2 separate regions of the Homo sapiens genome follow, and region 2 is linked to region 1. Evidence: fine-mapped expression QTL. A gene starts in region 1. The other region holds a variant in brackets. All regions are shown on one strand. Distances are from middle to middle. Region 1 holds the start of RNF103 (ring finger protein 103). Region 2 overlaps RNF103-CHMP3 (RNF103-CHMP3 readthrough).

Region 1 (5,000 bases):
AAGCATTTAAGCCATCCTACATATGAACAGAATCTGAGATATAAAACCAATAACCCAGATTAATAGCCTATTAGAAAAACAGATTATGAAAATGAATAATTCATACATTCTTCTGTTTTTGAAAATAAATTCTAATTAGTCTGCCCAGCTAGGCTTAGTGGAAACTGAAATCAATCTCATGGGAAGACAGCCCACACCTCCAACCCCTGTCATCTTTGGAGTCCCAGAGGATGAACCGCTGCCGCTAAACCTCCGGACCAGGAAAACAGTCCTAGTGGGTTTTTTTGTTTTGTTTTGTTGTTGTTGTTTTTTTTTTAGATTACAAAGTAATACATGATTATTTCAGAAAATATAATAAAACAGAGATATAGCATAAAAGAAAAAATATTCTAAATCCCATCACTTAGAGGTGAATACACCTAACAATTTAGTGGATACATCTCTGTCTTTTTGTAATACAGATACAAAAATAGGATCATATGACGCAAACTTCTCAGTCACCTGGTTTTTTTCACCAAACACTATATTTTGGACATGGTTCCATGTCCATAACCGTGTGTCTACATTTTTCTTTTTAGTGGCTGCCTCATGGTTCATCATTTGAATTACTGTATTTGATCAATCCTCTGTCACTAGATATTTGGGTTCTTCCTTTTTTCTTTCCAGCATTAACTCTGCAACAACGACGAAATTCTATACACACATCTTTGTGCCCATGTCCAATTATTCCTCAAGATAAATTTCCTGAAGAGAGATTACTGTGCCAAAGAGCTTGTATTTTATGGGGGGCTTCTAACCCACATTGTATACCCCACCAACATAGAATGTGCTTGTCCATACTCTCTTATTCAGATGACCCAATGTGTTCTCTTATCAATGCTTTTATCCCTCCTGTGGGTTAACCATGAATGAAACAAAGCAAGGGGGTTGGGATGGGAGGCAGTTGAAACAAACAAGAAATTTAAAAAGAGTTCTTTAATTCCTTCTTTCTAGTCCCTCCCACACTCTAATGTTTTTTTCCAATTTGGAACTCTGGCCTGACTGGTTCCACCCTCAGCTCACACACCAACTTTCCCTGCCCATGCCTATTCTGTATTTTTGAGATTGGGTCAGTCTCTCCTCACTAGCGAGTACATACATTCCTTTGAGGTGAGGGACATCACCTTCAGTGTCAAGGTTTGGACAATATCATCAAAGGGTCACCAAGACATGCCCAAGAATTCTGAAATTTCAGAACCAGGCTTGTTAGAATCAGTTGTTTAACACAGTCTCCCACACTGATCTGCCAGCCACGAGAACAAAGCCACATGGAAGCTAAAGACACAGGGGCAGTGTCCAGTTGCTGGCTGGACATTCCTACACCTCCTCCTCTGATTCTCAATGCTCCCTGGGCCCATCCCCTTCCAACTCCTCCCCCACTAGCCCGGCACTGAAATGCCCTTGTTCACTTTATTTTAAATGGGCACCATTCGGAGGCTACATTCTCACAGTCCATTCTTTGCTTCCCGTTCCTCCCTTGCTCCATGACCTGGGATCATGATCCCTTTCTTCCTAAAACTTTCACCCCTAGTTTCAGATAGTTGACAGTTTTGCACAAATAGTAACATTTCCCCGTAATTACTGTTTTTTTTTTCCTTCCTTATCAAAAGGGGCTGGTCAAAGCCAACCTTGTTCAGTTTATGAACCCAACTCCTTCCTCCCTCAAGACTGACACAGAGATTGACGTAAAGAGTACGCTCGGCCCGGTTAAATTTATAAGCACAGAACCAGGTATCGCATGCTTGTCCATGTGACTCTTTTTTTTCTTTTCTTTCTTTCTTTTTTTTTTTTTTTTTTTTTTTTTTTTTTTGAGACGGAGTCTTGCTATGTCACCCAGGCTGGATGGAGTGCAGTGGCGCGATCTCAGCTCCCTACAAGCTCCGCCTCCCGGGTTCACGCCATTCTCCTGCCTTAGCCTCCCGAGTAGCTGGGACTACAGGGGCCCACCACCACGCCGGCCTAATTTTTTGTATTTTTAATAGAGGCAGGGTTTCACCGTGTTAACCAGGATGGTCTCGAACTCCTGACCTCGTGATCTGCCCGCCTCGGCCTCCCAAAGTGCTGGGATTACAGGCGTGAGCCACTGTGCCAGGCCCATGTACAAAATAAAGCACCCGGAACTTTGCACCTGGACTTATCTACACTCGACAATCTTTGTCCTAGGAACTCAGGGAGTCCACACCAGGCTTTTAACACCCTTGAGACTGAAGGAGGGAAAAGGCTGTAACTGGCAGCGACAACTGGGCCTAGTATAACGCGAACTCCAGTTTTGGCCAAACCTCCTCCAACACACATGTGCAAAGCCACATTCTCATGAAGAGGGGGCAAAACATTTGCTTTCTGGGTTTAACCTTCTACCATCTCAAACCAACTGTGCCAAAAATTTCCCTGTTCACCAGGATTCATCAAAAAACGTACATTTCTATTTTCACCGATTTTAAGAGAATAATTAACTGCTCTATTTTTACAAAAAATACACAAAGTGATACAATCTAAAGACTAATCCTCAGACAAAATCAATTGCTAAACATTGGAGGGGCAAAAGGGGAGACCACGCCGCAAAAGCACGGAGAGGCAACTTTCGGCACCGCGGGAAGGCCCCGACCACGCTGCGGCTCCGCCTCTCCTCCCGCCCCTCGTTCGGTAGTCCGGTAGCCCCGCGGCTCCCCGAATTCCCCGCCCTCGGCCCCTGCGGGCGCACCCTGCAGGCCCCGCCCCGGCCCCGCCTCATCGCGACGTCAGTTGTTATGTCTCGGCTCCGGCCGCGGCCGCCGCTGATACACGGTTGTGGAGGGTACGGCCGCGGTCTCCGGAGGTGGCGGGGGTGTTGGGGACGGGTGCTGCGACCGGCACTGCCCATCCGAGCGGGACGGGCGCTGAGTGGCCGGGAGGCAGCCGGGTAGCCGCCTGGAGGAGCAGTCTCGGGGCCTATTATTGGTTTTTTCCCTCCGAGACCGATTCCATCTGCAGAGACCGCGACGCCCCATCCTGGGCCGGGCCGCAGTGCCCGCCCGCCTGAGAGGCGCCGCCCGCCAGCCGGCCCGAGCGAACCTGGAGCCGCCGCCGTGCCCGCCGCTCTTCTCGCGGAGCCTGGGCGGTCGGCGGGGCCTGGGGCCTGGGCTTCGGGCGCGGCGTTGCGGCGGCCGCTCCTCCCCGCGCAGAACACGCTGGGCCCCGGGCCTGGCCCGGCCGAGCGCCGCGCCCTCCTGACCCGCGGCCGCGGGAGTCCGGCCCCCACGGCCCCTCGGGCCCCGGCCTGCCGCCCGGATCCCCGCCTCCTGGGCGGATCTGAGTTATTTTTTGGTCTCCCCCTCCCCCTTGAGATCGCGGCACCGGAGGGCCGACCCCGCCACCTGGGTCAGTGCCCGCCCCGGGGGAAGCGTCCCTCGTTTTGTTCTTCCCCGCGAGCTCTCCCCGCGCCCCTCTCCTTTCTGTGCTTAATGGATGGGGGTTTTGAGTTTTTCCCCTTTATTTTTGTCGGCTCTTGACTGGGAGGCCCGGCGCGAGGCTCTGCGTCTCTGCGTCCCTCGTCGCCGCCTCGCGCCCGCGCGGATCCCGTCACCTGCTTCCCCGCCGGGGATGGCCGGCCAGTGACGGCGCCGGGTGGCCCGCGCGTGGACACGGGGCCCTCGCCCAAGCTGCCACCGAGCCGCGGCCCCCGCCCTCGACCCTTCTCTCTCCCGTATTCCGAGCTCTCTGGAAAGAGAGGAAACTCCAGGGAAGATGTGGCTGAAGCTTTTTTTCTTGCTCCTCTATTTCCTGGTCCTGTTCGTCCTGGCCAGGTTTTTTGAGGCCATTGTGTGGTATGAAACTGGCATCTTTGCCACCCAGCTGGTGGATCCGGTGGCGCTGAGCTTCAAGAAGCTGAAGACCATTTTGGAGTGCCGGGGGTTGGGCTACTCAGGGTTGCCCGAGAAGAAGGATGTCCGGGAGCTGGTGGAAAAGTCAGGCGAGTATCGGGCTTCCCCTAGGGTCCCCTCCACCTGGGAGAGGGGACGACCTGTACCTCCTGGTACCTGGCTGTTCCCCCAGAGTGAGGCCTTTCCTGGAAGCGTTAAAGCTGCCCAGGTTTCTTCGTCCAAGCTTCCTACAATCAAGTATGCGGATCCCAGCTTTGAGGAGGAGTCTGAAATTATTTGGAGGAGTGTTGGTGTATCCTTTTAAGGTTATCGTAAAATGACAGTTTAAAGTGTGGCTTCTTAGCGTTGTTTACTAAGTTGAGTGATTTTCTCAAAATTCTGGAATATCAACTAGTTACAAACTGGAAAGCATTATTTGTCAGTTGAAGTTCATAAAAACGTAAGAAAAACTCCAAAACGTTGTCTGTCAATAGCAATATTTGTCACGATAGTAATAATAAGATACCCAGAGTGGGGACACATCTTTGGAATACTTACTATCAGAGGCACTTGGGCCTAGGATTTAAATGTTAAATCATGAGTTTGAATATAGACAGTATACACCGTACAGTATTAGCTTTTCAGACTTTAAGTTTGGTGAAAATAAGGCGAGCATTTTGTATAAATGCCTGCCATGTTCGAGTTTATATTATATTTCTGTTAGGATTTTTAAAAATTTGCATCTTGGATGTGTAAAAGAAAAATTTTTTTTGTCTTCTGTGTCACAGGTACCCTTGCATTGTTTAATGGGTTGAGAAATATACGTGAAATAGTGCTGAGAGAATATTCAATGTCTTAAAGAATGTGTTTTTAGTAATTGTTGGTTTTGGTAGGATTGGGTGAGAAATATGGTTAATTTTTTTCACTGCTGCACAAAGTATATCTTTGGATATACTTCCTGAAAGTGGAATGTAATTTGAGAAAGGCTTTCTGCGTTGCTGTGGGAAGCAGCTGAAACTGATGGTTATCTTTTTTGTTGTTTCAAGTATTTTTGTCAGCTGTATCTTTTACAAGACAAATCTTTTCCTTCTTTAGTACCTTATAGACATGTAGCGTGATAGA
Region 2 (5,000 bases), 73 kb after region 1:
AATAAATAAATAAATAAATATCCCCTGCTTTCTACTTATAGCATTGTAAGAATAAAGACTCGTTTGTAAAATAGAGCATTTGTTTTGTAGAATGTTCCTTGTTATGGTTTTGTCTATGTCTTGTGGTTATCGCTTTTTTTTTTTTTCCTCCAACTTTTAAGTTCAAGGGTGTATGTGCAGGATGTGCCGGTTTGTTACATAGGTAAACATGTGCCATGGTGGTTTGCCGCGCACATCATCCCATCACCTAGGTATTAAGCCCAGTATCCATTAGCTGTTCTTCCTGATGCTGTTCCTCCCCCACCATCCCCCATCAAGCTGCCCCCACCCGATCTCCACCCCCGGCTGACAGGCTCCAGTGTGTGTTGTTGCCCTCCATGTGCCCATGTGTTCTCATCATTCAACTCCCACTTATAAGCGAGAACATGCAGTGTTTGGTTTTCTGATCCTGCATTAGTTTGCTGAGGATAATGGCTTCTAGCTCCTTCCATGTCCCTACAAAGGACATGATCTTGTTCCTTTTGTGGTTAGCTTTTTTCTCTACCCCCTGTGTTTTCTATGAAATGGAAGTTGGATCTAAGTTTGATAAGATCCAGGTTAAACAATTTTAGCAAGAATGCCTCACAGGTAACCTGTGTGATTCATAGTGTATCACATCAGGAGGCATATAATGTCTGTCTTGTAATTAATGATGCTAATAACTTTGGCCACCTGGTTGAGGTAGTGACACACCAGATCTTTACATTATGTTTTCCTTTTTATGCTAGTAACTAACCTGAGGGGTGATATTTTAGCACCATGTGAATGTCCAGCTCTTCAGTAATCCTTCACTTAGACACATTAACATTTATAGGTGTCCCTTTCCTGAATCAGCTATTCTATAAGGGTTTTTAGAGTGGTGATTTTTCTAATTCTCTGATTTCTTTTTCATTTTTAGCTGGCAGTGTTCTATAAAGATCTGTCCCTTATTAGCTGGGGCTATTTGGTTACCTTGACATAGAGTTTCTATTGAAAATGCAGGATAAGTGCTTAATGCTCTTTATTTAATTGCTAATATTTAGAATAAAGAATTGGTATAATAATATCCGGTGGTATCAACTGCATTCTCTCTCCACCCGTTCCTCTCAGAAGCACCGTTTTGGACTCATGGATTTTTATATATTTAGTGTGTTATAGTTCTAACCATTATTCTGTTTGATACTGAAAAACTTATACATTTGGTCAGTGGGAGCTATTTCAAGCCAGTTCCTATCTGCTTTTAGCATAACTTTACTAATCTTTGAATACTTCCTTGTTTTCTAGCATATATCCTGGTATGATTTGTGAATTCCTAGCCTGAGACCTGAAATCGGCCATTTCTCCAAGATGCAGTGGTTTCTTTTAGCGGGAATGCTATTTAGATACCAAAATTTGAGTGAGCCTGATGCTTCTTGCTATTCGAGTATCCCTGCTTCTAAGCCTTTTTATGGAACAGAACTGGGAAACATGTTCTTTAAAAAATCATGAAGGTGTTTATAGACTAAGTTGCTTTGAACCAACCCTTTGCCAAAAATAACTAAAAGAGCTAAACAAAAAGTGTAACTATTTGAAATCACTGAAAGCTACCAGGGCAGTGAGAAATTGCAAAATCAAGATCTCAGCAAAGAGGGAAGCTCAGTTACATGAACCCAATCATTTGGGACTACCTTCCCCCTAAAGAGATCCTCTAATTCCTAATGCAGTGGGTGACAAATAGAATTTGAGTAGAGTTTTTGACAAACCCTGTGGTTGGGGAGTATAAAAATTGGAGTTCATGGCCGGGCATGGTGGCTCACACCTGTAATCCCAGCACTTTGGGAGGCCGAGGTGGGCAGATCCCCTGAGGTCAGTTGTTTGAGACCAGCCTGGCCAACATGGTGAAACCCCGTGCCTACTAAGAATACAAAAAGTAGCTGGGCGTGGTGGCAGGCATCTATAGTCCCAGCTACTTGGGAGGCTGAGGCAGGAGAATTGCTTGAACCTGGGAGGCAGAGGTTGCAGTGAGCCGAGATGGGTGACAGAGAGAGACTCCATCTCAAAAAAAAAAAAAAAATTGGAGTTCATAAGCAGATATTCAGGGCTTGTGGTTGGGACTCTGAAAGAATACCCCTTAGCAATAATAGTGACCTGGAAGTAGACTGGCTTTCACAAAGACTGAAGACCAGTTTCAAATAATCTCTATCCCCTGATAGGATTAATTAAGATTAGTTAAGAACCAATTGCCAGGACACTTAAGCTATATGTTTGCCAGAAGCAAATGTAATTCCTCTTTGGAAGAAGACAATATCATTCAGAAACTTAAATTATCCTGCAGATTTTCATATGTAGTCATTTCTCGGTATCTGAGGAGGATTGGTTCCAGGGTCCCTCCGCCCATACCAAAATCCATGGATGCTGAAGTACTTGATTTAAAAAGAAAAAGGTAATTGCATATAACGTATGTACATCCTCCTGTGTACTTTAATCTCTAGATTACTTATAATACCTAAT[G/A]CAATGTAAATGCTCTGTAAATAGTTGTTACACTGTATTTAGGGAATAATGATGGGAAAAGTCTACATGTTCCATACAGATGCAGCCAACCATTTGTTTTTTTAAATATTTTTGAGCTGTAGTTGGTTGAATCCACACATGTAGAACCCATGGATATAGTGGGCTGACTGTACAATATTGAGAATTCCATTCTTAAAAAATAAGTAAATGCCTTTTATTTATTACCATTTATATGATTACGAATATATCTCCCAGTTTGTAACATTTTACTTTCTTAATGGAGTCATGATGAATAAAAATTCTTAATTTCAATATAGATAAATATAAGAAGCCTTTTCCTTTTAGTGGTTATTGCCTTTGTGTCTTGTTTAAGAACTCCCCTCTCTCTCTCCCTCTCCCTTTCTCCCTCTCCCTTTCTCCCTCTCCCTTTCTCCCTCTCCCCCTCTCTCCCTCTCTCCCTCTCCTCTCCGTCTCCGTCTCCCTCTGTTGCCGAGGCTGGACTGTACTGCCGTGGTCTCGGCTCGCTGCAGCCTCCCTGCCCCGGGCTCCCGTGGTTCTCCTACCTCGGCCTGCCAAGTGCCTGGGATTGCGGGCGTGCGCCGCCACGCCTGACTGGTTTTTGCATTTTTGGAGGAGACGGGGTTTTGCCCTGTTGACCTGGCTGGTCTCCGGCTCCTGACCTCAAGTGGTCTGCCCGTCGTGGCCTCCCGGGGTGCTGGGATTGCAGACGGAGTCTCACTCACTCAATGCTCAATGTTGCCCAGGCTGGAGTGCAGTGGCGTGATCTCAGCTCGCTGCAACCTCCACCTTCCAGCCACCTGCCTTGGCCTCCCAAAGTGCTAAGATTACAGCCTCTGCCCGGCCGCCACCCCGTCTGGGAAGTGAGGAGCGTATCAGCCCAGCCGCCCATTGTCTGGGAAGTGAGAAGCGCCTCTGCCCGGCCGCCCCGTCTGGGAGGCGAGGAGCGCCTCTGCCCGGCTGCCCCATCTGGGAGGCGAGGAGCGCCTCTTCCCGGCCACCCCGCCTGGGAGGCGAGGAGCACCTCTGCCCGGCCGCCCCGTCTGGGAGGCGAGGAGCGCCTCTGCCTGGCCGCCCCGTCTGCGAAGTGGGTGCCTCTGCCCGGCCGCCCCATCTGGGAGGTGAGGGGCGTCTCTGCCCGGCCGCCACCCCATCTGGGAAGTGAGGGGCGCCTCTGCCCGGCCGCCCCGTCTGGGAGGTGAGGAGTGCCTCTTCCCGGCCGACCCTTCTGGGAGGGGAGGGGCGTCTCTGCCTGACTGCAACCCCATCTGGGAAGTGAGGAGCGCCTCTGCCTGGCCGCCCTGTCTGGGAAGTGAGGAGCGCCTCTGCCCGGCCGCCCCGTCTGGGAAGTGAGGAGCGCCTCTGCCCGGCCACCCCATCTGGGAACTGAGGAGCGCCTCTGCCCGGCCGCCCCGTCTGGGAAGGGAGGAGTGCCTCTGCCCAGCCGCCACCCCATCTGGGAAGTGAGGAGCGTCTCTGCCCGGCCGCCCATCATCTGGGAAGTGAGAAATGCCTCTGCCCGGCCGCCCCGTCTGGGAGGCGAGGAGCGCCTCTGCCCTGCCGCCCCGTCTGGGAGGCGAGGAGCGCCTCTGCCCGGCCGCCCTGTCTGGGAGGCGAGGAGCGCCTCTGCCCGGCTGCCCAGTCTGGGAAGTGGGCGCCTCTGCCCGGCCGCCCCGTCTGGGACGTGAGGGGCGCCTCTTCCCGGCCGCCCCGTCTGGGAGGTGAGGGGCGTCTCTGCCCGGCCGCCACCCCGTCTGGGAAGTGGGGGGCGCCTCTGCCCGGCTGCCCTTCATCTGGGAGGTGGGGAGCGCCTCTGCCTGGCCGCCCCATCTGGGAGGCTAGGAGCGCCTCTGCCCAGCTGCCCATCATCTGGGAGGTGGGGAGCACCTCTGCCCGGCCCATCATCTGGGAGGTGGGGAGCACCTCTGCCCGGCTGCCCATCGTCTGGGATGTGAGGAGCGCCTCTGCCCGGCCACCACCCCATCTGGGAAGTGAGGTGCGCCTCTGCCCGGCCGCCCCGTCTGGGAGGTGAGGAGCACCTCTGCCCGGCTGCCCCGTCTGGGAAGTGAGGAGTGCCTCTGCCCGGCCACCCCATCTGGGAAGTGTACCCAATAGCTCCGAAGAGACAGTGACCATCGAGAACAGGCCATGATGACGATGGCGGTTTTGTTGAAAAGAAAAGGGGGAAATGTGGGGAAAAGAAAGACAGATCAGATGGTTACTGTGTCTGTGTAGAAAGAAGGAGACATAGGAGACACCATTTTGTTCTGTACTAAGAAAAATTCTTCTGCCTTGGGATGCTGTTAATCTATAACCTTACCCCCAACCCCGTGCTCTCTGAAACATGTGCTGTGTCAACTCAGGGTTAAATGGATTAAGGGTGGTGCAAGATGTGCTTTGTTAAACAGATGCTTGAAGGCAGCATGCTCATTAAGAGTCATCTCCACTCCCTAATCTCACGTACCCAGGGACAC

The links. PIP is the estimated chance that this variant, and not a neighbour inherited with it, causes the effect.
Region 2: its variant is the best candidate, but not a certain one, in a credible set for the expression of RNF103 in whole blood (TOPMed, PIP 0.61).

What each region holds. Positions count from the first base shown.
Region 1 is chr2:86,621,649-86,626,648 of GRCh38, reverse strand. RNF103 (ring finger protein 103) reads left to right here and starts at 2,784. Exons shown (of 4, transcript NM_005667.4): 1 at 2,784-3,988. The coding sequence starts at 3,763. The region is part of intron 2 of RNF103-CHMP3 (RNF103-CHMP3 readthrough); the gene reads left to right. RefSeq lists silencers at 2,594-2,763, 2,844-3,383, 3,654-3,733, 3,914-3,963 and an enhancer at 2,589-2,883.
Region 2 is chr2:86,548,351-86,553,350 of GRCh38, reverse strand. All of the region lies in intron 3 of RNF103-CHMP3 (RNF103-CHMP3 readthrough), which reads left to right. All of the region lies in intron 1 of CHMP3 (charged multivesicular body protein 3), which reads left to right. Among named protein-coding and RNA genes, the nearest start is that of CHMP3-AS1, 11 kb to the left of the region's middle. RefSeq lists an enhancer at 463-632. The variant G/A (reference allele first, on the strand shown) is at 2,509.